3 linked regions of the Homo sapiens genome follow. The protein of the gene in region 1 interacts with the protein of each later gene in a pairwise test. Each region holds a gene or a part of one and is shown in the gene's direction. Other genes may lie near its edges.

What was found.
Region 2: the proteins of NYAP2 (region 1) and MORN4 interact in binary tests that used the Homo sapiens proteins (3 or more experiments, as listed by UniProt).
Region 3: the proteins of NYAP2 (region 1) and AGFG1 interact in binary tests that used the Homo sapiens proteins (3 or more experiments, as listed by UniProt).

Annotation. Positions count from the first base shown.
Region 1 is NC_000002.12:225,392,161-225,402,709, forward strand, and holds the start of NYAP2 (neuronal tyrosine-phosphorylated phosphoinositide-3-kinase adapter 2), read left to right. Parts: upstream 1-7,549; 5' UTR 7,550-8,095; intron 8,096-8,263; exon of another isoform or gene 8,264-8,400; 5' UTR 8,401-8,883; intron 8,884-10,549.
Region 2 is NC_000010.11:97,629,169-97,640,001, reverse strand, and holds the start of MORN4 (MORN repeat-containing protein 4), read left to right. Parts: upstream 1-6,501; 5' UTR 6,502-6,655; intron 6,656-10,833. UniProt on the Homo sapiens protein: Plays a role in promoting axonal degeneration following neuronal injury by toxic insult or trauma.
Region 3 is NC_000002.12:227,530,152-227,540,381, forward strand, and holds part of AGFG1 (arf-GAP domain and FG repeat-containing protein 1), read left to right. Parts: intron 1-939; coding exon 940-1,059; intron 1,060-1,986; coding exon of another isoform or gene 1,987-2,058; intron 2,059-3,397; coding exon 3,398-3,607; intron 3,608-4,693; coding exon 4,694-4,874; intron 4,875-6,473; coding exon 6,474-6,553; intron 6,554-6,749; coding exon 6,750-6,842; intron 6,843-10,230. UniProt on the Homo sapiens protein: Required for vesicle docking or fusion during acrosome biogenesis. May play a role in RNA trafficking or localization.

The DNA of each region.
Region 1 (10,549 bases):
GTCCTTTGCAGAGACATGGATGGAGCTGGAAACCATTATCCTCAGCAAACTAACACAGGAACAGAAAACCAAGCACTGTATGTTCTCACTTGTAAGTGGGATCTGAACAATGAGAACACATGGACACAGGGAGGGGAACAATAGACACTGGGGTCTGTCAGGGGGTGGGGGTAGGGAGAGCATTAGGAAAAATAGCTAATTCTTGCTGAGCTTAATACCTAGGTGATGGGTTGATAGGTGCAGCAAACCACCATGCCACATGTTTACCTGTGTAATAAAACTGCGCATTCTGCACATGTACCCCAGAACTTAAAATAAAAATAAAAATTAAAGATCAGCTAGCATTTATTGATACTTATTAAATTCTAAATGTAGTTATTTTACATAGGCTTTTACATATAACTAATTTAATCTTCAAAATAAATGTGTGAGTTTATACTATCATTATTGTCATTTTCAGATAAAGAAATTGAGGCAGCGAGAAATTATGTATCTTTCCCATTGTCACACAGTTAGGTTACAGGGTAAGCAGTACACCAGCCCAGTGATTCCTTCTCAGAGCTAATGCTCTTGCCCTCCTCACAATACCCACATTCACATAAATGAATATAGATTTATATTATAATTTTAATTGTTATGTAATAACTTATCTTTCAAGCTCTTGTTTTTAGACATATAGGAAGTTTTAACATTTTTGCTATTCCAAACCATGAATAGTCTCAAATATACAGTCTGGCACACTTATCATGTCCTGAAAGTAAAATTATTGTTTCAAAGGCTGTGCACGTTAAAAAATTGAAACTGTATCAGATTTCCTCACATTTTGGTTGCGTGCATTTACACAACCATTCATTTCTCCACATGTATGCCAGCATGAGCTATTATGAAAAACTAAGAGCCATTCTTGATTTAATTTTCATTTTATTACTATAAGGTTAAACATATTTTTTGTATGTATTTGCCATTTCAATTTCTTATTTATGATTGACCCATTCCTTTTCTTTGTCCTTGTTAGTACTATGGTGTTTAGTTCTTGTTTATTTATAATAAAATATAGAAATATGTAACTGTTAACTTTATTTATAATCTTTTCCTACTTAAATGTTTTACATTGTTAAGAATAATAGCCTCCAGCTCCATCCATGTTCCCACAAAAGAAATTATTTTATTATTTTTCGTTGTCGCATTGTATTCCATGATGTATATGTAGCTCATTTTCTTTATCCAATCTGTCGTTGATGGGTGTTTAGGTTGATTCCATGACTTTGCTATTGTGAATAGTGATGCAATGGACATTCACTTGCATATATCTTTACGGTAGAATGATCTATATTCCTCGGAGTATATACCCAGTAATGAGACTGCTGGGTCGAATGGTAACTCTGCTCTTAGCTCTTTGAGGAATCACCCTACTGCATTGCACAGTGGTTGAACTAATGGAGGAACGGAAAGCCAAATACCACATGTTCTCACTTATAAGTGGGAGCTAAATGATGAGGACTCATGAACACAAAGAAGGGAACGACAGTTACTGGGGTCTACTTGAGGGAGATGAACACAAGAAAATTATTGGGTACTGGGCTTAATATCTGGGTGATGAAATAATCTGTACAACAAACCCCCATGACATGAGTTTACCAATATAATCAACCTTCACATGAACCCACGAACCTAAAATAAAGGTTAAAAATAAATTTTAAAAAATGTTTTACGCTTTTATGTATTCAGTTTTCTTTATTATCACTTAGTTTTTTCAAACTTTGTCTTTAGTTATCTTTAGATGGGCCATCTCCACTCTAAGATCATATTAAAGTTTCTTTTAGTAAATTAGTGTTTTTATATACAAATGTTTCAGATGTCTGGAGCTAAATTGTTCAATATGGTAGCCATTATTTACATGTGCATGTTAAATTTAAATTAATTAAAATAAAATCTAAAATGTGGTTCCTCGGTCATATTAACCAAAGTTTAAGTGCTCAATAGCCACGTGTAGCTAGTGGCTATTATATTATATTTTATTTTCTCAGGGACTAGGTCTCCTTACGCTACCCAGGCTGGCCTTGAATTCCTGGGCTCAAGCAATCCTCTTGCCTGAGCTTCCCAAGTAGGCTGACTACAGGTTCACGCTACTGCATCAGGCTGATGGTTATTATTTTCGACAGTGCAGATATATACCGTTTTCATCATCAGATAAATTTATTTGAACAGTTTTTCTCAAATGTTAATATGTACCCCCAATCACCTAGGCATATGTTATAATGCAGATCCTTACTCGAATAATGTTATGGACTACATGTTTGTGTCCCCCCAAATTCATATGTTGAAACCCTAAATTCTCAAGTGATGGTATTTGGAGATGGGACCTTGAGGAGGTAATTAGGTCATGGGGTAGAGCCCTTATGATGGGATTAGTGACTTTATGAGAGCTAGCTCTCTCTCTCTCTCTCTCTCTCTCTCTCTCTCTCTCTCTCTCTCTCCCCCACCCCATATGAGGACGCCAGAAAGAGAGTCTTCACCAGAACCCAAGCATGTTGGCATTCTGAACTCAGACCTCCACTCTCTAGAACTGTGATAAATTAATTTCTGTTATTTAAGCCACCTAGTCTATGACATTTTGTTATAGCAGCCTGAACAGACTAAGACAGGCATTTTGGGGAAAGACCCAAATTGCGTATTTAATGAGCTGGTGCTGTAGGTTCTTAGACCACATTTTGTGTTGCAAGTGTCTAGATTTATTTTTATGTAAGGAACTGTGAAAATTCATTGTGTATGTGTACATTTCTCTGTTTTTCAATTTTATTATTTATTGATATGCAATGACATATTTATATGCTAAATATCTACAGTTGTATATATTTTCCCTGCACTTTCTAACCTCTTCTATAGATTCACAATCAAGTCTTGTGCCATACTACAATAAAATCAAAAAAGCTTTGCAGGATGTTTTAATATTTAGTCAAGCACATCTCTGCCAATAGCTTTTCAAGGCCTACCAAACAGTTTTATTTAAATTGGAATTTCATTCACTCTAGTGAATTTAGTAAGAAGTAATTATTTATTAAATTTATTCTTCCTATTCAAGAACAAGGAATTCCTATAATTTCCCATATCTTTTTTATGTCTCTGTTTTGAATTGAATCTTTGTGTCTGTCCCAAAATCCATACACTGGAGCTCTACTCCCCAGCGTGATGGTATTCGGAGGTGGGGCCTTTGGGAGGGAATACAGTTTAGAAGAGGTCAAAAGAGTGGGGCCCCTGTCATGGGATTAGTGTCCTTGTAAAGAGAGGAAGAGTCTCTCTGTCTCTCTACTCTCTCTTCTCTCTCTTCTCTCTCTCTGTCTCTCTCCCCCTCCCTCCTTCCCTCCCTCCCTCCCATGTGAGGACACACAGCCAGAAGGTACAATTTGCAAGCCAGCAAAGAATCCCTGACCAGAAGCCAAATCTGCCAGCACCTTGATCTTGGAGTATCCAAGCTCCAGAACTGTGAAAAATAAAATTCTGTTATTTAAGCCACTCAGTCGATTGTATCTTGTTTTCAAAGCCTGAGTTGACTAAAACAGTATCTTAGAAGAATCTTACTGTTTTCTCTAAATATGATCCTTATGTTCATATATTCAGTTGGTCTTCCTATGGAGCAATTTTATTATTTCTAGTAAGTTTCAAACTGGTTATTTTGCATTTTTAGTTAGAAAAACTATGGAGTCCCTTTGGAAATATTTTTCTTCCTCACTTACTTGGAGTTTAGTTTGGTTACTTGTATATTTAAATTTCCATTTATACTTTTATTTTAAAAAAAGACAATCTCATGTTCATTATATGGATACATTTGAATTTTCTACTTGTGCAGAATATGTCACCAGATGAGATATGTAGTCATGCATTCATTCAATAAATCCCTACCACTGGCTAGATGCAATCAGTAAGCTGGGGCCATGCGAACAGAAAGGAAGGGCTCCACTCTTAAGGACTCTTAGGCAAAAACATTTGAACAATGAAATAGGAATATTTGGTAGAGTATAAAAAATTCATGATTTTATTTTTAATTATACTGGATATTTCATAATACAGAGAGCAAGCATCCAGTTTGAATGTGGTAAATTAGGACAAACTATGAGAGTAAGACATACTTGACTTTTGAAAAGTATAGATATTGTTCATGCAAAGAAGAGAGATGGTTGGTTGGAGTGTGGGTGTGTGATTCACTAGAATATATGGATCCTTGTTTAGAAATATTTTTATCATTTTTAGTATAGCGATGAATACATTGATGGTATTTCTGAAATCTTTACTGGAAAATATCTGTTGGACAAAACAATGGAGGGATGTTTGGATCTATTCCTAAGTCTCTTGCCAGGGGAATATTTCATTTATTGTCAGTTTTCCCCCTTGGCACTGTAAAAGTAGTTTTTTGTGTGTATTATTAGACCATAAATCTTTTACTTTTTCTTTCTGTTTTAGCTACTGAGTATGCTGGATCTTGGAGCACCCATATCACCATTTGCTGCCCCACGACCCCTAAGTCATATGTGCAACTTCTGTCGACATCTACATTGTTATAGGCAAAAATCATGAGGAGCATATGGTTTTCATTCTACCAAGACTTTCATTTCACACTGTTACCAGAAGGGTTAGAAATCCTGATTGGATGGGAAGGAGATTAGCTTTTTCCTTAGTGGAATAATTTCATTTTAACAGAGGGGTCACCTTCCTAAGCTAAATGTGAAAAGAATGATAGAAAGAGTACAGATCATGGAAAAAAAAAAAAAACTAGAAAGGCTTTGTAGTAAATTTTGATATGACTTCAGAGAGTTCATCCTCACTTCATGTATTTGAATAAACCCTTTAAAATTTAGGTAACTAAATTATTCTATTTCAATTCTCACTTTTCTCATTTACGTCACTTTTATACAACAAGCACTTTCCACCATCTGGCTGATGTATAGAATAAGAAGCATTTTCAGGGCGCTGACTCGTCTGGTCTATCCAAGTTCACTGAAGGGACCTATTTAACCCCCAAAGCATCAAACTCTATTAATACAGTGTAACCAAAAGAGCTAAACTCTACCCTGACTAAAGAACTTTAAAAGAAATATCAAGTCATCAGGTATCTCAATGACTTGTTTCTTATTGACATCAATAAGATGTCTATTCAATAGAGTAGAAATAGAATAGAAACATCCATGTATTTTATAAAGATGCACAAGAAATAAACCAATACATGAGTATAATTTGAGCTTTTTAAATATCTCTATACCTTTATTCCCGATATGAGGATTTTTAACTTAAATTTTGTCCAACGCACTTTTCTCCAGATACTATTGAAATGAGTAGAGGTGCGTTCTGCATTTGGCTCTAAGATGATTTGCAAGAGTAAAGATGCTTTGCTGTTTCATTCAGTGAGACCTAAAGTAGTTCTGGGGTCCTTCTCAGCACGATCCTCAAAGGTTCTATAAACTCCTATACACTAATATGTCTCCAGAGAATATATTGCCCTGTCAGTGACATTGACACCTAGAATGAGGAAAGTGTGGGATTGAGAAAATGGGATTGGTAAAATGTGATGATTCTCAAGCCCTATTCTGTAATATAAAGAGAAAAAGAAAGAAAAAGAAAAAGGCAGGGAGGCAGGCAAGTAGGAAGGAAGGAAGGAAGTAAAGAAGGAAAAGAGGAAGGAAAGAAGGAAGGGAGAAAGGGAGGGAGGGATGAAGCAAGGAATGAAGGAAAGAAAGAAGAAACAAAACAAGGAAGGAAAGGGGAGGGAGGAGAGGGAGGAAGGAAGGAAGGAAAGAAAGAAAAAGATATATTTTCCTAAAGTTGAATATATGAAACTTAAAAGACCATCTATTGTTATAAATATGCTTTCTCTATTCTTCTAATATAAAGATTCCTTTTACTTTTTGAATTTTTGTGGTGAGGAAATGGCAGATTCTTCATTTTTTATGCTTGGCAACTGTATGTCAGCCTCTCCTCACTTTGTTTGGATTATTTTGGTGCATGAAATCAAGGGGACTGAGAACCACTGTACTGGCCAAAGATGAGGAGACCTGCAGTCAGCCCAGGGACCTTGGGTCTTAATCCTAATGAGGCAATTAAGTAAGTCAGAAACAAGTAAGTCTGTTTACTTATCTTGGTAGTATTTTTCTTACATATAGAAATGGGCTTTACACTAGAGCTTATTCAAGCTCTCCATAGTTCAAAATATAGACCCCCAGACTGGCAAAATTATCAGTCATGATAAAGTGTTTCCGTTTTCTAAAATGTCTGTCAATAATTTTTTTTTTGTAAAGAACTTTTTCCACCTTTGGTCATGTGCTGAAAGACAACATCTATGAGAACACTTCACTACCAAAATAATGGCACATTAGTAAACCTCTTGATCACAGTGTGGTGGCTGTTACTAGTTTATAAGTGGTGCTTGAGGCACTTTTCAGCAATGTGCTAAGTATTTAGAACCTTCATAAGGCAGAGAGAGAGAGAGAGAGAGGGAAAGGGAGAGCATTGGGATAGGGGGAAGAGAATATGAGAGAGGTCTGGCCTCTTCTCTTCCCCGTTTGTATTTCTCCTCCTTTTCATCTATCTAATCTTGCAGAATCCTTCTTAAAATTAAACAGATGTCCTGTTCTAACCAAAAGCTAGATACACAAAGACCAAGAAATAAGTGATGAGCTTCAGGAATGCACTTCAGGACATGTAAAATAGAAAAGCTTTATAGTAATGTAATGTGTTGATTTTATTTTTCCCCAGATACTTACAAGTTAAAGAAATATAATTTAAGAAAATTACAGCACAGTCTCAGGTGACATTTAAGAATTAGACAGGTGAACTTGTTTATTTTTGTGGTCTGTCAATGCATTAAAAACTAAATTCAGAAAACTATTTTCTAAGACTTTGGTTATGAATATAGACGTTAAAAAACACTCTTGGGAAAACCAACCTGCAAGTGAAGGTCATTTACAGTGAGTTACTGAAAAAGAATGTGAGGGGAAAAATCTATAGGTCACTATCAAGTAATAAGCACATCCCCTCCCATCAAAATTGCTTTTTAAGCTCATATCCATCAGAAACATATTATATATTATTCCTTTTATCATAGTGCAAAATTAATAGATTAAAACATGTACATTTTAGTTTTTACTGAGGAGGAGCCAGTATGAGAAAAACTTTGAGCTTAATAAATACAAATACACACAAACACACATATATAAGTTGTGGTATATAATGTGATATATATGTATATATTCAGTAGAGTATTAAGAACAGAATGAGGAGAGTCTTTGGGAAATATCAGAAATAGAATGACTTTAATTTTAACAATGAGTCTATAGGAATTAATGACATACATATCATAATTATTTTGCATCTTATTTTAGTTAAAAAAATGTGCAGTCCGAGTAAGACCTTTGTTCCACACACGTGTGTGCTGTGCATATTCTTTCTAAGTGGACTAGTTTTGTTCTCATGCCATGGGAGCAGGTGGCATGAAGCTGTTTTGATGAGGTTAAAAGGCTCCTCCCCTCTCTCCCCAAGCAGCAGCCTGAAGTACGTCAGCAGTAATTGTGTGCATGGCTCGGCTGTGCAGGGAGGGTGGAGGCAAAATTGATATCAAATAAGGGTATCAAACTGAGATCTAGATGTTCCATTTAAGTTGTTGTTCATTTTCATTAGCCACGCCAGGGGTGAAATGCTTATAACTTAACCATTCTCTGTAGTAAGAACATTTGTTTTCAATGGATTTATATTTTTCCTCTCCATAAAGACTGAATTAGTGCTATAGTGAATATAAATGAAGGGTGTTTCTTTACCCTCTTTTCCTTTTATTATTTACTAATCAGACTTCAGCTCAGTTAGATAAAAGAGAGAGGTTCTGTTGCCTAGATGTGAGGCCTTTAATGAGGATGGGAGCCCCCAGGGAGCCGAAATCCAAAGTAGAACGATGCCGCTTTCCGGTTTCTTGCAATTTCTTCAGTTGCTTCTCCCTTTTCCAATGGGCCTAGTGAGCAGGAACTATCCAAGGTGCTAGAACGCTGGCAGCCTTGCCGTTCAATGCAGACGGATTGCAGAAACAGAGAAGAAAGATTACTGCTTATTTCAGAAGGTAGGTTCTTTGTTTCAGAATCCCTGATTAATCAGCAGCAGCTTCAACAGACTAAGGCAGCTGGAGAGGAGAAAGAGAAGCAGGAAGGGAGGGAGTCAGGGGCAGGGAGGGAGGGAGGGAGTGGAGGGAGAGAGAATGAGAGAGAGAGAGCTGGTTGTCACGGGGGAGGGACTATGCCACAAGCTGGGCTGCTCCAAACCTTCTGTATGTAAGTGGCAATGAGAAAGAGCATCTTTTTGGCTGAAAGGAGACATTTAGAAAGGATGTTTCTGATTTTTTGTTTTCATTTATTTTTGTCTTCGCAGAATATAATCAAATGAGGTACATTAGCCAGCTTGGTGATTGCTTCTGGTCCTGTAATCATCTGTGTAGCAAAGTGGGTAAAATCATTCAATTTCTTCCCTGCTGGACCTGGAAGGAGAGGGGCTGTGTGTTCATCCCCACCCATTAGCTATGCCCTCTTTTCTCCGAATGTCGATTTAAGGAAGCAAGCACCTGTCTTCCGCCACTGCATCTTCCTAGCAAACTTTAAAGGCCATTTTATCTGATAGGAAGGACATCGAGAATGCTCTGATCTAGTGATGAAGAATCTGGGAGTCGACACTTTTCCCATCCAGACACAATGCACTTTAATTGAAGAAACACTGAGCTGAACTACAAGTCTATTTCTTATGGTGCTGGATTACTCCTACAGAACTGCCCTGAGATCAACCGTGAGAGAGGGCTCTGACAGACACAAGTCACCTTCTGGTTATTGCACTTAGCTCTCCCTGGGGACTTAAATTTTGGTATGTATCTCATTTTTCAGATTCTCTAAGCATGCTAATCGAATCCAGCACTGAATAGATCAAGCAATCTGGTGATAAAATGGAATGGATTTTAGTTAGGGATACTTAATGCTGAAGTTTGCATGCCTTATTAGGTGGAGCAGAAATAAAGCCACAGTGAAGGCATCCAGGGCTTTAGTGAGCCTGAGGCTATTTTTACTCCCTTACCCACTTAGTTACATTACCATGGAAATGGTTAAACTAGATTTTCATTAGTAAAATAAGCCATGTTGAATTATTAAAGCTTTGAAAATGTTTTCCAGGGTATTAATTGGCATTCAAGTTGTGCATGCTAGCTATTTATCCGCTATTCCATACCATAAATATTTTACAACTGTCTCTTAGCACATTTATGTCAGCAGTGAGAGCCCAATTTTACATTCTCAGGAGAAAAGACACAGTATCCCCCAAAATTCAAAACTACCAGACAAACAGCAAAGCCGACACTGCTTCTTCCTGACTGATTAGACATAAACCTCTTTGAGAAACATTTTTTAATACTATTCAATGTCAGAAAGATTTTATTAGTCTCATCACAATAAATATTTTCTGTAAAACTTTAGGTGGACTTGTTTTACTTGGGACATGTTCTTATTTTGTTGGGGTGTCTCCATCCTAATTTTTCCAACTACTCAGCAATATTTTAAATACAAGACATGTGAGTATTTCATATCTGGAAAAACTATTACATAAAATAATATTTTTCACTATCATTGGGAAATACTAAAGTTCTTTTGGTACCATAGAATTGGATTTTTTTTTCTAAATATAGCCGAAAAATAATGAAATTCTGAAAAGCTTACATGATGTAGTTTTAGTCATTTTAACATCCAAGCATTTATAACCAAGTAGTGTGGAATAACAAATATAGAGAAAGAGTGAAAATTAACTCTCTTCCTAATTCTTCACATTTTAGACAATGTTCTCATTTATTTTATATATTGTCAAGCACTAATTACACAAATTAATGAGAAAATGTGGTCCACAAATGCAGAAATTATTTTGTTTTCCTATGGAAAGTGCAACATACATGAGCCAACTCAGCAAAGAAAGGGACTATGTGAAGGACATAGACAGTTTAGAGAATTAGTGGAAACAGACCAGAGGAAAATATTACAACTGCACAAGGGACAGTGGAGAAGCCTGAGGACTTGAAGCATCTGTCAAGTTTAGAAAGAGAAGTGTAAAAATCCTAGACACAAGAAGGTTGGTTATTGTTTAAAAAAATAAATAAATTATAGACTCCCAATTCAATTAGATGGTTCCCACTGTAGCTCCAGTCAGCAATTTATTAGACTGACTACATCTACTTTGCAAATAATGCCTTGTAAGCATCTGGAACCATTTGGCCCAAGCCTCCAAAAAGTATCTCAGCCACTGGCATTTTGCATGAGTCTCCAATATTAATGGAAATGTACAATCTCTTTACACCATGGGCAAACAGCACCATGACAACCTGGAAGATGAGGGGGAGATACCAATTCATGATGCTACTGCATTAACACGATTTATGCCTATCTTACTCATTTTGGGAAGAGAGATAGTGGAGAAAAACTCACTGCAAAGTAATCTGCTTTCTGAGAAAAAAGCAATCAGTGTCTTTGTAGTCACTTTAGCAAGCTTTCTT
Region 2 (10,833 bases), on another chromosome or scaffold:
GCAGTTCCTAACTTGTTTACCAAGAATTTACATTAAAATAACAAGTTATAGATTGGCTATACATTGTACTTTGTATCCCAAATTCGTATCTCAGTTGACCTAACATACTTCCAATGTAGATGTAACAATGTCAGGTTACACTTCAAGTTCGCAGGAACTTGAAGGTAATGGGTGAAGTAGCCAGTCAGGATAAAATGTCTTAACAATTGCCTCCAGGTTTTCCTAGGAAGCCCTGAAGATTTCTTTTTAAAATATTATTATTATTTTTTTAGAGTTAGGTTATCTCTATGTTGCCTGGGCTGGTCTTGAACTCCTGGCCTCAGGCGATCCTCCTCCCTCAGTCTCCCAGAGTGCTGGGGGATTACAGGTGTGAACCACCCACAGTGCAGCCAAAAAATAAAAAATTTTTAAAAGAAAAAAACCCGCCAGGCACAGTGGCTCACGCCTGTAATCCCAGCACTTTGGGAGGCTGAGGCAGGCGGATCACCTGAGGTCGGGAGTTCAAGACCAGCCTGACCAACATGAAGAAACCCTGTCTCTACTAAAAATACAAAATTAGCCGGGCATGGTGGCACATGCCTATAATCTCAGCTACTCGGGAAGCTGAGGCAGGAGAATCGCTTGAACCCAGGAGGCAGAGGTTGCAGTGAGAAACTCTGTCAAGAAAGAAAGAAAAAGAGAGAAAGAGAAAGAAAGAAAGGGAGAGGGAGAGGGGCAGGAAGAAATAAAGAAAAGAAAGGGAAGGAAAGAAAGGAAAGAAAGAAAGAAAGAAACCATTGCCCCAGAGTGTGGGTGTGGAAGGCATGACTGAAGTCCCATACTCATGTCTTTGAGCCAATAGACTGTGCATACATCACACAGAGCTCAGACTGCTCTAAGCTATCTTTCCTTCTCAACCTTATAGGAATTCAAGGCCAGCCTGGGCAACATAGCAAGACTCCATCTATTTTTTAAAAATTAATTTTTTTAAGGAGTTCCTAGGAAAACCCAGGGGCAATTGTTAAGACATTTTATTCCTGACTCGCTGCCTCACCCATTATCTTCAAGTTCCTGTGAAGATACAAACTTGTGATACAAAGAATAATACATAGCCAATTAATATCTTACACTGTGCCTGGCCCAGCTGCTCAATGCTTATTTGTTAATTGAAGAAAAATATGGTCCCATGAGCCTAAGAAGTTCTTACCACGAGGTAAGAGTCCATTGCTTTTACTCACACTGTTAAATCTCAGTGTCTAGACACAGTAGGTGCTCAGTACATTATTATTCATGAGAAAGGGAAGGAAGATAGAGTCCCTGCCCTCAAGCTGAAGGCATGTGGCTTTCTGAGGCAGTAGGAGAAAAAAAAGCAAAATGAGCTCAAAACTCCGTAACAGTTCACCAATTAACTGAGGCAGGCTGCAGGCTCAGCAAAGGCTTTATTTTTTTTCTAATTTTTTTTTTCAACCAGAATGCTCAAGGATCAAGCAAAGGCTTTAAGTGGGTCATGTGCTATGAGCTGAGTCTTAAAGAAAGAGTAATTAGATTGCTGGAAAAAAAGGAGACAGGAAAAAAATGTTACACCAAGCAGGAGTTACCTGAGTAAAAGAGGAAGGCTAGGGCATATAGGGAACAGAGAGCAACCTTCTTGATTCGAGGGGAAGCAGAGTTAAACTGGGTTACCAAGGGCCTGGAAAGTAGAACAGAACGAGACCAGCCTGGGCAACATGGTGAAACCCCGTCTCTACTAAAAATACAAAAATTAGCCGGGCTTGGTGGCACATGCCTGTAATCCCAGCTACTTGGGAGGCTGAGGCAGGAGAATTGCTTGAACCTGGGAGAAGGAGGTTGCAGTGAGCAGAGATTGTGCCACTGCACTCCAGCCTGGAACAACAAGAGCGAAACTCCATCTGAAAAAATAATAATAATAATAAATTCATGGAATACTGTTTCAGTTAAAATTTATACAAACAAGCCAGGTACGATGGCTCACGCCTATAATCCTAGCACTCTGGGAGGCTGAGGCGGGTGGATCACCTGAGGTCAGGAGTTCAAGACCAGCCTGGCCAACATGGCGAAACCCTGTCTCTACTAAAAATACAAAAAAAAAAAAAAAATTAGCTGGGCTTGGTGGCACACGCCTATGATCCCAGCTATTTGGGAGGCTGAGGTGTGAGAATCGCTTGAACCTGGGAGGTGGAGGTTGCAGTGAGCTGAGATCGTACCCCTGCACTCCAGCCTAGGCGACAGAACAAGAATCCGTCTCAAAAAAAAATGTATGCAAACACTACCTTCAAAAGTGTAGAATGTACATCCAGGCTTGGTGGCTCACACCTGTAATCCTAGGGGAGACCAAGGCGGGTGGATCACAAGGTCAGGAGTTTGAGACCAGCCTGTCCAACATGGTGAAACCTCGTCTCTACTACAAAAAATTAGCCAGGCATGGTGGCAGGCGCCTGTAATCCCAGGTACTACGGAGGCTGGGGCAGGCGAGTCGCTTGAACCTGGGAGGTGGAGGTTGCAGTGAGCTGAGATCGTGCCATTGCACTCCAGCCTAGGCAACAGGGCCAGACTCCGTTTCAAAAAAAAAGTGTAAAATGTAATGGTTGGAAGCATGGGCTTGGAAATCAGAGACATTTGAGTTTGAATCCAGTCTCCATGATGATCAGTTGTTTTAGACAAGTTATATAACCTCTCTAAGCCTCAGTTCCTTAATCTATAAAATGGGAATAATCATCCCCATGATTACTGAATCAAGAATCAATATAATGTTATGTAAAGCACTTAGCATATGAAGCATGACTCTCTAATAGGAAAAATAAAAATAAAGCACTTAGCATAGTGTTTTGTACATAAAGAGCACTCAACATATGGTAGCTTTTTGAAAAAAAATCACTGCTGATGTTACTGTTGATGTTGTTTTTGTTTTTATGCTTAAAGTCACCAGCAGACTAGAGGTATGGGCTTTCACGAATCATGGCCAGTCACATAGTCACCAATATTTCATAATCATTCTTTCTTGAATCAAATTATTGCCACTGCTAACTAGAAATACCAAATTGAAAGCACTATTGTTTAATTATATGTATGGGAATGTCTTAAACATTTTTGGCCAGACAAACCATTCTAAACAAAAGTCGTACAGAAGGTTAAATTGCCCCTTTCAGTTATAATACATGCACTTCCTTTTCCTATCTAGACCTCAATAATCAACTGATGCCTGGCTCTTGTGGCCCAGGGTCTGTAGCCACATAGATAATCTTTTGGTATCATTCATCTCATTTAGCCCATAAGCTTCAAATTATGGTAAAGGAAAGGTCCCAGATTTAGAGTTCTCCCTGGAATTCTGAGTTTTTTCTCCACAGAAACCCCTCAGAGTCTTTTATTTTATCTAAAAAAATTTTTTGGCCAGGCACAGTGGCTCACGCCTGTAATCCCAGCACTTTGGGAGGCCGAAGCGGGTGGATCACGAGGTCAGGAGTTCGAGACCAGCCTGGTCAAGATGGTGAAACCCTGTCTCTACTAAAAATACAAAAATTAGCCGGCTCTGTCACTCAGGCTGGAGTGCAGTTGTGCAATCTCAGCTCACCGCAACCTCCGCCTCCCGGGTTCAAGCGATTCTCCTGCCTCAGCCTCCTGAGTAGCTGGGACTACAGGCGCGGGCCACCACATCCGGCTAATTTTTGTATTTTTCAGTAGAGACGGGGTTTCACCATGTTGGCCAGGATGGTCTCGATCTGTTGACCTCATGATCCGCCCACCTCGGCCTCCCAAAGTGCTGGGATTACAGGCATGAGCCACCACACCCGGCCTAGACATTGTTTTAAATGCATTACATGGATTAACTCATGGAACCAGCTTTATAGTATCCTGTGATGTTGGAAACCCAGACCCAGGGAGGTAAAGGTAATGTGCCCATGGTCATTCAGCTGGTAAATGGCAGAGCCGGATCCAAATCCAGGCAGACTGTTTCCATGCTCTTAACACTATGTTGATTCTTATTAAATATCCCTATGAAATATGTCTCATATTTACCCCCTTTCTTTCATCTCCACTGATGCTACATGAAACTTCCAGGATGTGTTAGTTGCATTATTACAATAACTTCTGAGTTTGTTACTTTGCTTCCAATCTCTCACTGGTCATCTCTGAGTGTCACTGTCAGATTAATTTTCATAAAATACTGCTTGTAGTGTGTCATTCCCCTGGCCAAGAAACTACATTTTATTTATTTATTTATTTATTTATTTATTTATTTATTTATTTATTTATGTTTTGAGACAGGGTCTCTGTTAACCAGGCTCAAGCAGTTCTCTTGCCTTAACCTCCCGAGTGCTGGCACCACAGGCACTTGTCACCACACTCAGCTAATTATAAAGGCCATAAGAGTAACAATCATGGCTTTTCAAGCCTGACAGAACCTAGCATCATGCTGTACTCACATTGTTTAAGAAATAAACATATGGATACACAGATTGATGTGAGTGGTATTTGGGAAGATTTGCTCCAATCTTGGCACTATATTTTATTTATTTATTTATTTATCTAGTGAACCAGAAATAAAATTATAAGCCCCCCAATCAAATGAATGGCCTCCTCTTCTGGGCCAAGGGCATTCCTAAATTAACCTGAAAAACTATTTGAGGCCATGATGAGAAGTGGGAGTCAGACATGCCTCATTATTTTCTCCTGCTTTTGGAATTCAGGACCAGCATTTAACATTAAAGCAGAGATCTTAAGGTTGACACAGCAGACTCTTTGTAGCAATGATACCAACATTGACAGATAGCAGGCCCCATCTGTCATGATAGCAGGCAAAGGTGTCTTTTATGGTGAAAATCTACATTCTGTAGAAAATCCCCTTCCCTTTCCAGGTCTTTTTCCTGATCCAGGGGAGAACTAACTAAGAGTCTGATACCTTTCTAAATCTGATAATAAACACTGGCCAGCCTTGGTGGCTCACACGTGTAATCCTAGCACTTTGGGAGGCAGAGATGGGAGGATCACTTGAGCCCAGGAGTTCAATACCAGCCTGGGCAACATGACAAAACACCATCTCTACAAAAAATACAAAAATAAGCCAGGCATAGTGGAATGAACCAGTAGTCTCAGCTACTTAGGAGGCTGAGGTGGGAGGATAACTTGAGCCTGGGAGGTCAAGGCTGCAGTAAGCCGTGATCCAGCTACTGCACTCCAGACTGGGTGACAGAGGGAGACCCTGTCTCAAAACAAAAAAAAAAATAAAGAAACATTTACAATCTATGCTCTCTGGAGCCTGCTACCTGTAGCCTTCTCTGCATAATAAAAACCTTGATTTCCACAATTCCTTGTGTGTGTGTGTGTGTGTGTGTGTGTGTGTGTGTGCGTGCATATCTTAGTAACAATTCCTTAACTTAACCCAGACATTCCCTTCTGTGGGTTCCAGGTCTTTAAACTCTTTCAACCAATTGTCAATCAGGACATCTTTGAATCCACCTACATCCTGGAACTTGCCACCCCCACCCCCACTTTCGGGACCAAGCCAATGTATATTTTACATGTATTGATTGATGTCTTACGTCTCCCTAAAATGTATAAAATCAAGTGGTGTCCCGACTATTTTGGACACACATTCTTAGGACCTTCTAAGGCTGTGTCACGGGCATGTCCTTAACATTGGCAAAATAAACTCCTAAATTGATTGAGACCTGTCTCAGATACTTTTTGGTTTGCAATTTATTTATTTGAGACAGGGTCTTGCTAGGTCGCCCAGGCTGGGGTACAGTGGCAGAATCATGGCTTATTGCAGCCTCAACCTCCTGGGCTCAAGGGATCCTCCCACCTCAGCCTCCTGAGTAGCTGTGACTACAGGCACCCACCACTAGGCTGGGTAATTTTTTTCTTCTGTAGATACGGAGTCTCCCTGCGTTGCCCAGGCTGATCTAGAACTCTTGGGCTCAAGCCTCCCGCACTCCTGAGCTCAAGCCGCGGCCTCCCGAAGTGCTGGGATTACAGATGTGAGCCACTGCGCCTGGCCAGGTACTATATTTTAAACAAAAAGGATCTAGATAATGACAAGGACAGCACAAATTCCTATAATGAATGCAAAAGTGTCTTGATATCACAATGTCTAGCACAGAGTTATTGGAGGCTATCCTGCCTAGCGCGTTACAATTTACAAAGCTGCCTCTCTGAAGCTGGATTTAGGATCTGCCTTAAACTCCGCGGCGGGGCCCTTGACAGCAGTGGGGACTGGAGCAAGATCAGAGCCGCTCGCGTTGATGGTCACTGTTGCTTCGGGCGCAGGTTTGGTTTTCTTTGGGGTTGCCATTTCAACTAGACGGCCTCTGGGTAGGCCAGATCTGGATCCTCTGTCTTTATCTGCGTTGCAGAGGTGGGACCACCCCTCTTTCACATAGTCAGCCCGGGTTCGCAAACACTCGGCCCCGCACAAAGATGGCGTGGAGCCGGGCTGGGCCAATGCGGAGTGGCGTTGCTCCCGGTTGCCTAGGTAACAGCCAATGGGCAGCGGGAATTGTACCCAGTGCGGTCGCCCAGGATGGCGGCGTCAAGTGGGGCAATCGCTGGTGGAGGTGGCGGAGAGCAAGGTGGCAGCCGGGAGCCCATCAGAGGAAAAGTCCGAGGCGCTGGAACCCTGCGTCCAGGCGTGACGGTCATCCCGAAAGGCCGGCCCCAGGTTGGCTGGAGGCGCAGGAGGGAGGGGGCCGGGAAAGAGTGTGATCGGTCAGGTGGGCACTGAGGAACGGAGCACGAGATGACCCGGCTCGGGGGCGCGGCTCCACCTCGGATACGCTGACCTGAGGGCGGTTGCCTGTGGGGGACCCAAACCTGAACCCTTTAGTCTCCACCGCGGGGGTCGAGGCCCGGGAGAGCTGACTGGACTGGGGTTAGCGAGCAGAGGGTGGAGGGTTGCATCAGGGGAATTGGCAGACCTGTGTGAGCGTTAGACCCTGCCGGGCGGGAGAGCGGGCCCGGATAGCAGGAAGGAACGCGCCTGGAAGGTGAAAATGGGGTGCGAGAAGGTGTTGCCTTGTTGTGGTCTAGGGCTTTGTTTTCCCTGAGCCCGCCTTTATCTCACTGGTGGAGAGAACTCCCACATATGGAAGCCTGGGGAATGGGATGCTTCATTTAGTTGATGGGTGGTATCCCTGCATTCTAGCATCTCTGAACTGCTTAGGTACCAGCAGGAATAACTGCTATATCGGAGTCCAGCCCTGGCATTCCCTTTCCCGTGAAATAGGATAGTATTCTGGCAGTATTACTCCCTAGTCCCAATCACCCCCAGGTCATCATCGCCTTTAAATAAAAAAAAAAAAAAATCTTTTTGGCGCCAGTATTTTCTTCCCACTTTCTTCAATCTAACCATCCCACAGTCTTCCCTAAACGAACCCTTCATATAGCAACGATACATTTCTTTACTTTTCACATGAGGAAAGAGGAGGTTAGACTTATAATGAAAAACAGTTATTTCGAGCTCCTTTTAAAACACTTAAAAAAAAATATTTAGGCCGGGCGCGGTGGCTCACGCCTGTAATCCCAACACTTTGGGAGGCCGAGGCGGGTGGATCACGAAGTCAGGAGTTCAAAACTAGCTTGGCCAAGATGGTGAAACCTCGTCTCTACTAAAAATACAAAAATTAGCCAAGCATGGTGGCACGTGCCTGTAATCCCAACTACCCAGGAGGCTGAGGCAGGAGAATTGCTTGAACCTGGGAGGCGGCGGTTGCAGTGAGCCAAGATCCTGCCACTGCACTCCAGCATGGGGGACAGAGCAAGACTCCGTCTCAAAAAAAAAAAAAAAAAAAAAAAAGGGGAGTATTATTTGACTTTTTGTTCTAGGTTCCTAACAAGGCTAATCTTTGTTCATCAAAGCCTTCATTTTCTTCTCTTTAGGATTCTAAAAGCTTATGAACTGCTTTCTTTATTACTGAAATAATTTGACAAGACTATTGTACCCTGGGAAGGGTGGTTCTGGGGGGACATGTGGGTAGTTAGGGTGGCTGCCTCCACCCAGTATTCTCTAACTGGATCTCCCCCACCGCCCCAACCTTTTGTTTTGTTTTGCTTTTCTTTTCTTTTTTTTGAGACAAGGTCTGGCTCTGTTGCCCAGGCTGGAGTACAGGTGTGGTGCAGTCACTGCTCACCCCGGCAGCCTCAAATTGTGGGCTCAAGCAATCCTCCTACCTCAGCCTCCTGAGTAGCTGGGACTACAGGCATGCACCACCACACCCAGCAAATTTTTGTATTGTTTTGTAGAGATGAGGTCTCACTACGTTTCCCAGCTTGGTATTGAACTCCTGGGCTCAAGCGATCCTCTTGCTTCAGCCTCCCAACGTGCTGGGATTACAGGAGTGAGCCATCATGCCTGGCCCTTTTTCCTCTTTATGTCAGTTTTTTTTTTTTTAATCCTCTTAAATTGGACACAGTTTACTGTGAATACAAAAATGTTGTTTAATACGTTGATTTCTTAAAATTAGAAAACGATAAAAAGAACGGAAACAAAAATTCTCGTTATTGCCTCAGAGTTCTGTTTGGAAATAAGAAAATAATAATAATTAAAAAGAAATGTCTGGGACAAAAGAAAATGAAGATACCAGGAATATGGTATATAGTGCAGACTAATAGTGTGTTGGTTTACAGGGACAGAATAGTAATTTTCTTTTATGTAAATGTTTGGACTGATCCTTTGCAACCCATCTATCAGGAGTGCAGAAAGGGTGAGTGTCTGTTTAGAAGTGTGAATCATCTTGGTTTGTGACTGGATTCCATGGGTGTATCTGTAGCCTAAACTCCTGAGCCATATATTCTCTTTAAAAATATGATTTGGATAACTGATAGAAATACTGATTTGCATCCCTTATTAAAGTATTGGGCCAGACATGGTGGCTCCCACCTGTAATCCTAGCACTTTGGAAGGCTGAAGCAGGCAGATCACTTGATCCCAGGAGTTCAAGACCAGCATGGGCAACGTGGTAAAACCCTGTCTCTACCAAAAAATGCAAAAATTAGCTGGGTGTCGTGGCATGCTCCTGTAGTCCCAGCTACTCAGGAGGCTAAGGTGGGAGGATGGCTTGGGCCCAGGAGGCAGAGGTTGCAGTGGCTGAGATGACGCCACTGCACTCCAGCTTGGATGACAGAGCCAGACTGCCTCAAAAAAAAAAAAGTATTGGGCTTTCAGTCTTCATCGGCACTGACTATACTTTGTTAAACTAGGTTTGTCTCAATGACCATGGTTACTGGTGAAATTCCTTTTTAGGTCAGTAGCTGTAAAGCTATTCATTAGCATGGTTAATTATAAAAGTCATAAAATCCAGACACTGTCCCAAATAGTGACAATATCAACTATTTGGGCACATGTGACAGTTTCTAGCCAAATGTATTCAACCATGGCCTGAGACTCATGGATTCTACACACATTCCCTTTCATTAGCACTTCTGACTGTGGTCTTGGCAATGGACATCATTTTGGCAAGCATTTGCTGAAGGGAATTTGCTATATGTGCCTAAGTCAAAATGGAATGGAAGTTTGTAGTATGTACTGTTGAAAACCAATGGGAGAGGATGGTGGGAGGGTTAGGTTGAAACATGGTATTCCAGTTATTATTGCTGTATAACAAAGTACCCCAGAATTTAGCAGCTTAAAACACCCATACTGTGGCCAGGCGCGGTGGCTCATGCCTGTAATCCCAGCACTTTGGGAGGTTGAGGAGGGCGGATCATGAGATCAGGAGATCAAGACCATCCTGGCTAACACAGTGAAACCTCATCTCTACTAAAAATACAAAAAATTAGCCGGGGCCGGGCACAGTGGCTCATGCCTGTAATCCCAGCACTTCGGGAGGCTGAGGCAGGCGGATCACAAGGTCAGGAGATCGAGACCATCCTGGCTAACATGGTGAAACCCCGTCTCCACTAAAAATACAAAAAAAAATTAGCTGGGCATGGTGGCGGGCGCCTGTAGTCCCAGCTACTGGGGAGGCTGAGGCAGGAGAATGGCGAGAACCTGGGAGGCAGAGCTTGCAGTAAGCTGAGATCGTGCCACTGAACTCCAGCCTGGGAGACAGCAAGACTCCGTCTCAAAAAAAAAAAAAAAAAAATTAGCTGGGCGTGGTGGCGAGCACCTGTAGTCCCAGCTACTCAGGAAGCTAAGGCAGGAGAATTGCTTGAACCCGGGAGGCGGAGCTTGCAGTGAGCCGAGATCACACCACTGTACTCCACCCAGCGTGACAAAGCGAGACTCTGTCTCAAAAAACAAAACAAACAAACAAAAAAAAAACACCCATATGATGCTCATGGATTCTGTGGGTGAGGGAATTTGGACCTGGCACCATGGGGAGGCCTCTCTCTGCTCCCTGATATGGGATGGAATGCAGGCTCAATGGCTGAGGGCTGGAATCATCTGAAGGCTCCTTCACTGATGCCTGGTACGTGGGATAGGATGATTCAAAGGTAAGGGCAGCCAACTGGAACACCAATATATGGCTTTTCTGTGTGGCTTGGCTTTCAGTGTTAGCCTCTGTGTAGTCAGGCTTTTTATGTGGTGGCTCGGGTCTCCAAGTGTGAGTGTATCAGTGACAAGATGGAAGTTGCATCACCTTTTATGATCTAACCTCAGAACACACCACCATTTTCTTTTGAGACAGAGTTTCACTCTTGTTGCCCAGGCTGGAGTGCAATGGCGCGATCTTGGCTCACTTCAACCTCCGCCTCCTGGGTTAAGCAATTCTCCTGCCTCAGCCTCCCAAGTAGCTGGGATTACAGGCATGGGCCACCACACCCAGCTAATTTTGTATTTTTAGTAGAGATGGGGTTTCTCCATGTTGGTCAGGCTGGTCTTGAACTTCCGACCTCAGG
Region 3 (10,230 bases), 2.1 Mb from region 1:
GACTCCTTTGTACTTTTTGAAATACGATTATTCAAGAAACAGCTTTACCATTGTGTTACATTCTGCTTAGCTTGGATTTCTTTGTACAGAGATTGCCTGAGTGTCCAGACAGTAATTTTTGTATTACTGAATTTATTAGTGTTGAATTTGCAAAGTTGTGTTTTCCAAAGTTTCATTCTGCAGCACTTATAATCGATTGTTGAAGATAGTGAATAGATCAGTACCTAGAAGTAAAAATGGATACAAGTACTACAAAGTCCTGTCTTGCCTATTTAATAGGTATTCTATTAATGTTTGGGGCTCTGAATTATATGCTATAATTTCTATGCTAGCATTCATTGTTTCTTAAATTTTAATGAGTTTAAAATTGCAGGCTTCTAATAGAATATGAATATCTTCAATTTATTTGGTGATCTTGTCCTTTTTTTAAATTTTTATATATGACCATGGTGAGACATTTGTAAACTTAAAAAAAGCTCTATTAATTAAACCATTTTTGTATTATTATTTTAAGTATTTCAGTTATTATTCAGATTCACATAGTTGATTACCATTTTTAATCAGTGAATTTTTCCAGGATGTTTTCTACATCTTTGTCTGCTTTCCTATAACTCAGTACTGTAACTCAGTACTCTGAAATAGTTTCCTTTGTTAATAGAGTCACTTTTATAGTACTGTGCTTGAGGTCATATACAGAGTATTGTGTCCAAATTTATCATTGCACAAAGTGTTTTTGGAAATTCTTGGTTACTCCTTAGTAAATTACCTGTAATTGGGTTACATGCTGGTAGGGTTTAAAATCTGATTGCTAAGTGAATTCTCTATAAAGTGAGTTTTGATACATAGAAACTTTTCATATAATTCTTAAACTCATGTGTCATGTATTTTCATTTATAGTTTTCATATTCATTAACATATGTTGTTCCTTACCATTTACAGCTCAGAATTCTGCAAATGCAGATTTTGCAAACTTTGATGCATTTGGACAGTCTAGTGGTTCGAGTAATTTTGGAGGTTTCCCCACAGCAAGTCACTCTCCTTTTCAGCCCCAAACTACAGGTAGAGCTTCTCCAGCATTGTGCTTAAATGTTTACTTTACAAAACAAAACTCTCTAAATGTAGTTTTGAAAAATTAGTCTAAACTTAAATTCTGTAATTATCTGACTTTAAAATGGTTCTATCTTCAAAAGCTCTGGGGAAACCTGAACTCTTTATTTTTTTCTATGTTCATTTGTTTTTCTGCATTATTTGGTATATTGTCTGTTTGACAACATCCATTCTCCTCCTTTTCCTGCGCATGAATCTTCCTTATATCTACCATGCACACAGGACAGAGGCATGACACTACTATAAGTATTTCTCTCTCTCTGTCTCTTTTTTTTTTTTTTTGGCAATCCTCCTGCCTCAGGATGGAATACAGGCACATGCCACCACTCCCAGCTAAATTTTTTTTTTTTTTTTGGTAGCAGCTGGGTCTCACTATGTTGCCCAGGCTGGTCTTGAACTCCTGGCCTCAAGTTATCCTCCTGCCTTGACCTCCCACAGTGCTGGGATTACAGGTGTGAGCCACTGTGCCCAGCCAGTACTATAAGTTTTTTAAGGTTCATAGAATCCATTGATTTAGGCTGACATTATACCTCTTAATAAAGGAAGCTGGTTGCTTCTGTAGAGCTAAAAATGTAAGTAATTTTCGGGGCAACAAGCCTGAGAAAAATTTTTATATGTTTATTAGACAAGAGTAGATTAATGATCACTTCAGTCAAACTTGGAAATAGTTTTCTGTGCAGGAATTGGTGTTTAAACATTGAATACTCTTTCCATAAATTGTGCTGTTTTCGTAAACTCATGGAACCCTTATTTAGATTTTTGGCTGATTACTTTTCTTTCAACTTTTAACTCTGTGTATTGTCTTAAAGCCTTTTCTTTCAATTTTCTTTTTTGTTTTTTCTTTAACTTTCATCATTTACATAATTTCTGGCTGTCCAGCATTTAGAATGCTTTCATCTAGCTGCAGTTTTGGTGAATTTACTTCAGCTTTTCCTCTTCAGGCTACCCACAGTAAGTTCTGTTGTCAAGTAGGCATCTTATACTAATTTGTATATTTTTGCTATACTTCAAGGGTTTTTCCAGTTATAGATTGTTAATAATTCTTTAGTGATAATCCTTCATAAAAATCTCTTCCAACTCTATTTATTAAACTCAGAGTTAGAGAACACAATAGTAGACAATCAAAGAGTTACTTGGTTTAATAATAATTTGAAATAATATTCTTTATATAAATTTTGAAAGTTTAGTATGTACTTTGTTTGCCAGCTCCTTGTAACAGGTCACAATATTTTACATACAAACATATATTACTTACCTTTAATTGAAACCACCATGATTTAACTCTTGAAAGAAATTTGATCAGTGTATATTTTTTTTAGAATGTATAAAAACCTGCTTGATAGAAAGTGTTCGTGTTTTTTTAATAGAAGTTCATGCATTCTGTTTTAAAATTATCTGTAGTTGTCTTTTCTATCACTTTAATATATAACTGTGTATATATACTGTTTTGATTTCTGAAACTAAAGTTTAGAAATAAAGAACTAATATCCCAAAAATGTAGGATCAAAAGCATAGAATGAAATATACTGGTTTTAGTCTTTTGATAGTACTTTAAGGAGGTCTCTATAATAGAGAACAGATTTTAAAGATGTAACAGGATATATATAATAGTGGCCATTAGGTGAATTGTGGTTTATAAAGTCAAAAATTGCTATAATGTATTATGTACTGTAATTTTAATGCCTTGAACTATATGGTACGGCATGATTTTACAGTGGACATCTTGATATTGTATACACATTAAACTATTATGTGGAATTAAATAGTAGCTCTTCAAGTGAAGTAAGTATAAATGTCAACGACCATCTTTTAAGGAATTTTGGATCACCGTAACACATTTTACACATTGTTAATCGCTACCCCTGGGATTGTTTAAACTGTTTCGTCATGGAGCCACAAAAGTTTGAAATCCTCCTAGTAAGATACTTTGCATCTTGTTTGCAGTCTGTTCAGGGAGAACTAGTGAAAGGCTGTAGTATATTTGGACTAGAAAGTAACTGAATCTCAAACCAGGTAGTGTGGAGATACCCCTCCATGAATTACATTCTTCATTCCAGGGTAGGTAATACACAGAAACATGTTACTTTACCTGTTGCCAAGGCCTTTGAAAAATCTACTTTTACAAAATTGGAAAACGTCACTTGTAGTCAAAAGCCATTGCCAGTCATTGATTTTAATGTTGTAAGATTGCTTATAGGACATTTAATTTAGGAAGAAATGATCATACAGTCTATGAGAGGGTACTAGGAAAAGCTTAGAAATTTCAAGTGCTCTGTTTATTCTGTTACAGGTGGAAGTGCTGCATCAGTAAATGCTAATTTTGCTCATTTTGATAACTTCCCCAAATCCTCCAGTGCTGATTTTGGAACCTTCAATACTTCCCAGAGTCATCAAACAGCATCAGCTGTTAGTAAAGTTTCAACGAACAAAGCTGGTTTACAGACTGCAGACAAATATGCAGCACTTGCTAATTTAGACAATATCTTCAGTGCCGGGCAAGGTATCAAGCTTTAAGCAAAACAAATACAAATTTGTGTTAAACAGTGCTCTTAATTTGGTTGTATTTATTAAAATCTGAACATGCTACACTTTTCTCAGTTGTTGTATAGAAATTTTGTCTGCACTGTCATTTTGAGTAAAATGTTCACTTGACACATTTTAGACCTGAAATATCAACTACAAAACTGAAGACATAGGGACTGATTTGTAAACTTTCAGTCTTACTAGTTGAGAAAAATTTTATTTTGTCCTAGAAGGCGTGCTTTACTTTTCTTTGGCTATAAAGAGCCAAGAAACCCCATTGGCAGAGCTGAATGGAGGATTATTTGGTGGTTTCTGTAATATATTTACTTCGAACAATTTTCCGTTAACATCTTGGTGGGTTTTTTATATTTAAAAAAAAAAATTCATGAATTTTACAGTATAGTCTTGTATCCAGTTTTATCTTAAGGCTAGTAGCCTCTACAAATGCATGTGGCACTGGTGAATAGCAGGTGTGTGTTGCTAAATGGAATTCTCCATTCTGATCTCTGGGCCTGTTTTCCTCCTCTCCAAAATGAGGATAATTCTAAGCATTAAACTCATGGAGTTGTGTTCTAAGTATTATTGCATGTTAAGGCATATAGAACAGTGCCTAGCACATAGTAAGTCCTCAATAAATGTTTCCCGTTATTACCATCTCTAATTTTTTTGTGGAGAATGCTGGGGAAATGATGCTATTGATAGACTGTTCACATTAGGTCTAGCATTATATGAATTTATATGTTCATGTGAACAAGATCCACCCGTCTTGGAGATGTTAACGTAAGAGCACTTGAGAGTTTCTTTCTTATGCATAATCCAGACAAATTTTTTTGGTACAGAGTGTTAATTTTTGTTAAGAGACATATTCTGTCTTTATCACAGTGGTATGTATAACAACTAATCCTGTCCAGTATGGTCCAGGTTATTTATTAGATTAATGATTTGGAATCCTGCTTAACTCTAAATCCATTTTAAGTTTACCTGTGTTTCATGGCAAATGTGGTTGATAAGTTGAAAGTGTAACTTTAAATTTTTGGTGTAACTTGATTTTGTTCGTTCCCAGGTGGTGATCAGGGAAGTGGCTTTGGGACCACAGGTAAAGCTCCTGTTGGTTCTGTGGTTTCAGTTCCCAGTCAGTCAAGTGCATCTTCAGACAAGTATGCAGCTCTGGCAGAACTAGACAGCGTTTTCAGTTCTGCAGCCACCTCCAGTAATGCGTATACTTCCACAAGTAATGCTAGCAGGTACCTTGTCTTAGCTAGCCCTCCTGCTTTGTGTTTTATCTTTTTTTTCCAACTTTGAATAATCAATTAAAAAATGACTGTTTCAAGGTATAATTTTAAAATTCTTGGATATTTTTGTAAATTTGAGGAATTTGAATTTAAATGCTAATTAAAATATAATCCTTGAATAATTGCCATAATTTTATCTTTTCATTGAATCAGACGTTTTGTTATGTTCTGTCCTTGAACACTAAACCGTATTTGAGAGCATGTACACATCTCAAAATGGACAGTTCCTTACAGATTGTACTCAGCAGAGAATCCATTTAGTAGTCAAATAATATACTTTAAAAATAGTTTTTAGTCATGATGATTAAACAGTGAAAGTCCCATATTATAGGCTTAGTTGTAAATACAGATTTTTAGAAGTGTTTGCACCAAAGCCCAAAATCAATTCTGTATCTCTTCAGTGTCATCCTCATATTTACAAATAAGCACATCTGCTGTTATGTTCATATATATCTGTTAGAATTCTTGGCAGTAGGAAGTCTAACACATTTTAGGACATTACACTTGTAAAAAACTTTTCTAGTCTTTATTTTAGAGTTGCGGAAATAGTCTCAGAAATACAAGAGATTTACCTATAACAATGTTTTATTCATCTCTGTTTTCCAATCCTGTGGATTGTATTTACTAATTTCTTTAGTTATCCTGGTAGCTTATTTTCCTTTAGCATCTTTTCTAGAAAGAAATGTTAGGATTGTAACACTTCCGGAAACATAAAGTCTGGAAACATACTTTATATATAATACATGATTTATTGATATTACATTACAGTACATCAGGGGTTCACAAACTGTGGTCCATGGAATGTTTGGGGTACCTGAGACCCTTTCATGGGGTCTGTGAGGTTAAAACTTTCTTTATAATAATTCTGAGAGATTGTTTACCTTTTCATTAATTGATATTTGCATTGATGGTGTGAAAACAATGGCAAGTAAAACTTGCTGGTGTCTTTTTATTTTTTTTTAATACTTTAAGTTCTAGGGTACATGTGCACAACGTGCAGGTTTGTTACATAGGTATACATGTGCCATGTTGGTTTGCTGCACCCATCAACTCATCATTTACATTAGGTATTTCTCCTAATGCTATCCCTCCCCCAGCCCCCCACCCCCGACAGGCCCCCAAGTGTGATGTTTCCCACCCTGTGTCCATGTGTTGTTCTTGTTGTTCAACTCACACCTATGAGTGAAAACATGCAGTGTTTGGTTTTCTGTCCTTGTGATATAGTTTGCTTAGAATAATGGTTTTTGCTGGTGTTTTAACATGAATATTAAGATAGTGGCACCAAACTGTACTAGTCGTTACAATAGTCATATTCCTTCCCACTACACATTCAGTTTTACTTGTATTTTTTATTTTTTTATGATGATTCTTAATGAAGCAGTAACAATTGTTTATTTTATTACATCTTTACACTTAAATGTCTTAATTTTCTTTGTGTTGATACTGATGCTGTGATACACGATATGTTCATTATTTTATGGCTACCCTGTAAATCGTTACTTTCTTTTTTTTTTAAGAAAAAAAATGAACTCTTTCAATATTTGTTCTCAGCAATGTTTTTGGAACAGTGCCAGTGGTTGCTTCTGCACAGACACAGCCTGCTTCATCAAGTGTGCCTGCTCCATTTGGAGGTATGTGCTTCTGGTATATACACTGGTTTTTACAAAGAACCCAAATATATATTGTGTAGCATTTTCTTAGGAGTCAAAGCAATGATTTGTTATCAGAATCCTTGAGTTTTCTGTCTTGATAAATATAGTGAAATAATTTAAATCTTAAATACAAAATGTATTAGGATTTTATAGTGTATTTTATAATTTTTTAAAGCTACGCCTTCCACAAATCCATTTGTTGCTGCTGCTGGTCCTTCTGTGGCATCTTCTACAAACCCATTTCAGACCAATGCCAGAGGAGCAACAGGTAAGAAAAAGAGACAGTGGAACAGTAAGTTTTGGGGAAGACATTTATCAACAAAGACACCATGTGAAGAACACCAGAAAATGGGGCCTCTTTCTTAGTGAAGTGAATGGCAATGGATAGAAGAGTTTGTCCATAAAGACAAATTCTAGCTGAAAGTTCATAAAATCCTGGAATTTAACAGTTGAGAGGGACCTTAGAAATTATCTAGTGTCTGCCCTTTCCAGTTAAAGCTTTCATTTTTCAGGTAGGGAAGCCCAGACATGGAGATGAGACTCCACAGAACGTTTATGACAGAGATAGGACTTGAACAGAGCAATTTAGATGTATTTGGTGGTCTGGTTTCAGAATTACTGGTTGTCACTCATGCAGTCTTAATGGAACCATTTTATGAGAAGTTTTTATTTTCCCTATGAGATTGCATCAGATGACTTTACTACATGAATTCTTAATTATTAGGTCTTTTTCTAGTGAATATCTCTTTCAGGTGTTAACATTTTTTAAGTTGTGGAAACTTGATTCAGTCGTGGGTATAATACTGAATATTTTCTCTTTTGATAATTTTTTCCCTTAATTCTCTTTGTTGTCTCCATTTTATTTTTTGATTCATACTGTAAGCCATTCACATCTTTCTCATGTTATACCTCTGATTTTTGTCGTATTACCTTAAACACCAGAGATATTTGCCAGTATCTTGGAATGTCAGCAGGTGCATTTGGTATGGCTGGGTATCCATTAAATCTAGAGTTTGTATGCTTTGTTTTTGTGTATATGTCACAATAATTTAGAACTAAAGCCTAAACTCCAGTTATAGCAAATGTTGATATGAACTCTTGAGAGATTAGGTACTTGTAACATTTTAATCAAACCATTAAGAATTACTAGTTTTTAGTAAATCTCTTTGTCATTGACAAGATTAAGAATCACAGTATTAGGAGTTTGAGCTGTAACTATTTTCTTTTCACATAAATGTCTTCACTTATACTCTGTTGGTAAGTAGCATAATAGATGTTTGATAAGTATTGGAATTTCACACAAAATTTAACTTTAAAAAAAGTTTAATTCAAGTGTACCTAATGAATGATTGTTTTAAATTTCCATTTGTACAATTTATCAGGTGTGTGATATGTGCAGTGTTTCTGTTTCTTAGCATACTGTTTTGATTTTGTGGACTGAGTTTGTAAAATGTCTCATGATACAATGGGTTTTTGTACATTGCCTCATTTAATCCACTCAGCTGTCATCAAATAAATATTTTAATTGTGTGACAGCTGAGGGAACAGGCCCAGAAAAGTTAATTGAACATATTTTGAGTACAGCCAGCCAAACTTGTGTTCGAATTCTGATTTATAGTTACTTGCAGGTTGACCATAAGAAAGCCTTTTGAATTTTGTTCTTTTAATGAATGGGGTAAGAATGATAGGGGGATGTTCAAACATTTATTGTGATAAAGTTGTTCACAAGATGCTATTGAGATATTTATAGATATTATAACTTCACTTAAGAACTGATGAATGGAAACTCAAATTATGTTTTGACTGAGCCTAATCATGTTGACCTGACTTCTCTGAGCCTTCATGTTGTCCCTCTCTATAGAATGTGAACAATATTCTCTTGCTGGCAGGTTTGTTGTAAAATTAGATGATGCACATTTACCCTGTATGGTCTTTGCGTTACAGCATATGCTCAGTAAATCAGACCTATTATTTTCCTTTCATGATTGTACCTCTGAGTTGGTTCTATCATTAGAGTTAAGGGCCTTTTTTTGCTTATTTTATTTAGAGTATGCAAGTTTTGTAAAAGTTGAAGTTCTACATAGGATATAAAATAATATAAAATGTACAACGTATGTGCAGATGATATAAGATAATTCTAGTATTAAGTAACAAAAATTTATTAGAAAGGTAAAACGACAGTGTCCACAAATGTTTATTTCAAGGTAATACATTTTTTCCATTATAAGTCATTTTGAATTTATCACGTTGGTCACCTTTATTAGATTATTATTGAATTGACCAAATCACAAGCATTAACTGCATATGTTTCTATTGAAGCTGAAATATAAACAATACTTCGACAGATGCACTACGCTTAAGAATTTCCAGTGTTTTATACCATCAAAGTTAATATTATTTAAGAATTTTTTGTTGCCTTCAAATACATTAACACTGGCCAGGCACAGTGGCTCATGCCTGTAATCCCAGCACTTTGGGAGGCCAAGGCGGGTGGATCACCTGAGGCCAAGAGTTTGAGACCAGCCTGGCCAACATGGTAAGACCCTGTCTCTACTAAAAATGCAAAAATTAGCCAGGTGCGGTGGTACGTGCCTGTAGTCCCAGCTACTTGGGAGGCTGAGGCAGGAGAATCGCTTGAACCAGGGAAATGGAGTTTGCAGTGAGCTGAGATCATGCCACTGGACTCCAGCCTGGGCGACAGAGCAAGACTCTGTCTCAAAAAAAACAAAAAACACATGTTAACACTGTGAAATTATATTTTGAGGTACCCTTTGATCCTAGCACTTTGGGATGCCGAGGTAGGTGGGTTGCTTGAAGCCCAGGAGTTTTGAGAGCAGCCTGGGCAACATGGCGAACCCCGTTTCTACAAAAAATAAATGGTGGCAGACACCTGGAGTCCTTCCTAGCTACTCAGGAGGCTGAGGTGGGAGGATTACCTGAGCCTAGGAGGTCGAAATTACAGTGAACTGTGATTGCGCCACCACACTTCAGCCTAGCTGACAGAGTGAGACTCTAGCTCACAAAAAAAAAAAAAAAAAAAAAAGGAGGTACCCTTATTGCATAATAGTTCTATGTGAAATTCGGAAAGTTTTATCAGTATATTTCTCTTTTTGTTTGTTGGTTTGTTTTAGACAGATTCTCACTCTGTCACCCAGACTGGAGTGCAGTGGCTTAATCTTTGCTCACTGCAGCCTCTACCTCCCGGATTCAAGCGATTCTCATGACTCAGCCTCCTGAGTAGCTGGGATTACAGGTGCGTGCCACCATACCCGGCTAATTTTTGTATTTTTAGTAGAGATGGGGTTTTGCCATGTTGACCAGACTGGTCTTGAACTCCTGGCCTCAAATGATCTGCCTGCCTCGGCCTCCCAAAGTGCTGGGATTACAGGTGTGAGCGACTGCACTTGGATCATTCTTAAAATGATGTTTAAATAATCATTTTTTCTGGATTTATAAAACTTTGGGGCTTTAGTTTTTTTTTTTTTTACTTTAAGTTCTAGAGTACATGTGCATAACATGCAGGTTTGTTACATATGTATACATGTACCATGTTGGTGTGCTGCACCCATTAACTCGTCATTTACATTAGGTATGTCTCCTAATGGTATCCCTCCCCCACTCTACCCGACCCCAAGACAGGCGCCGGTGTGTGATGT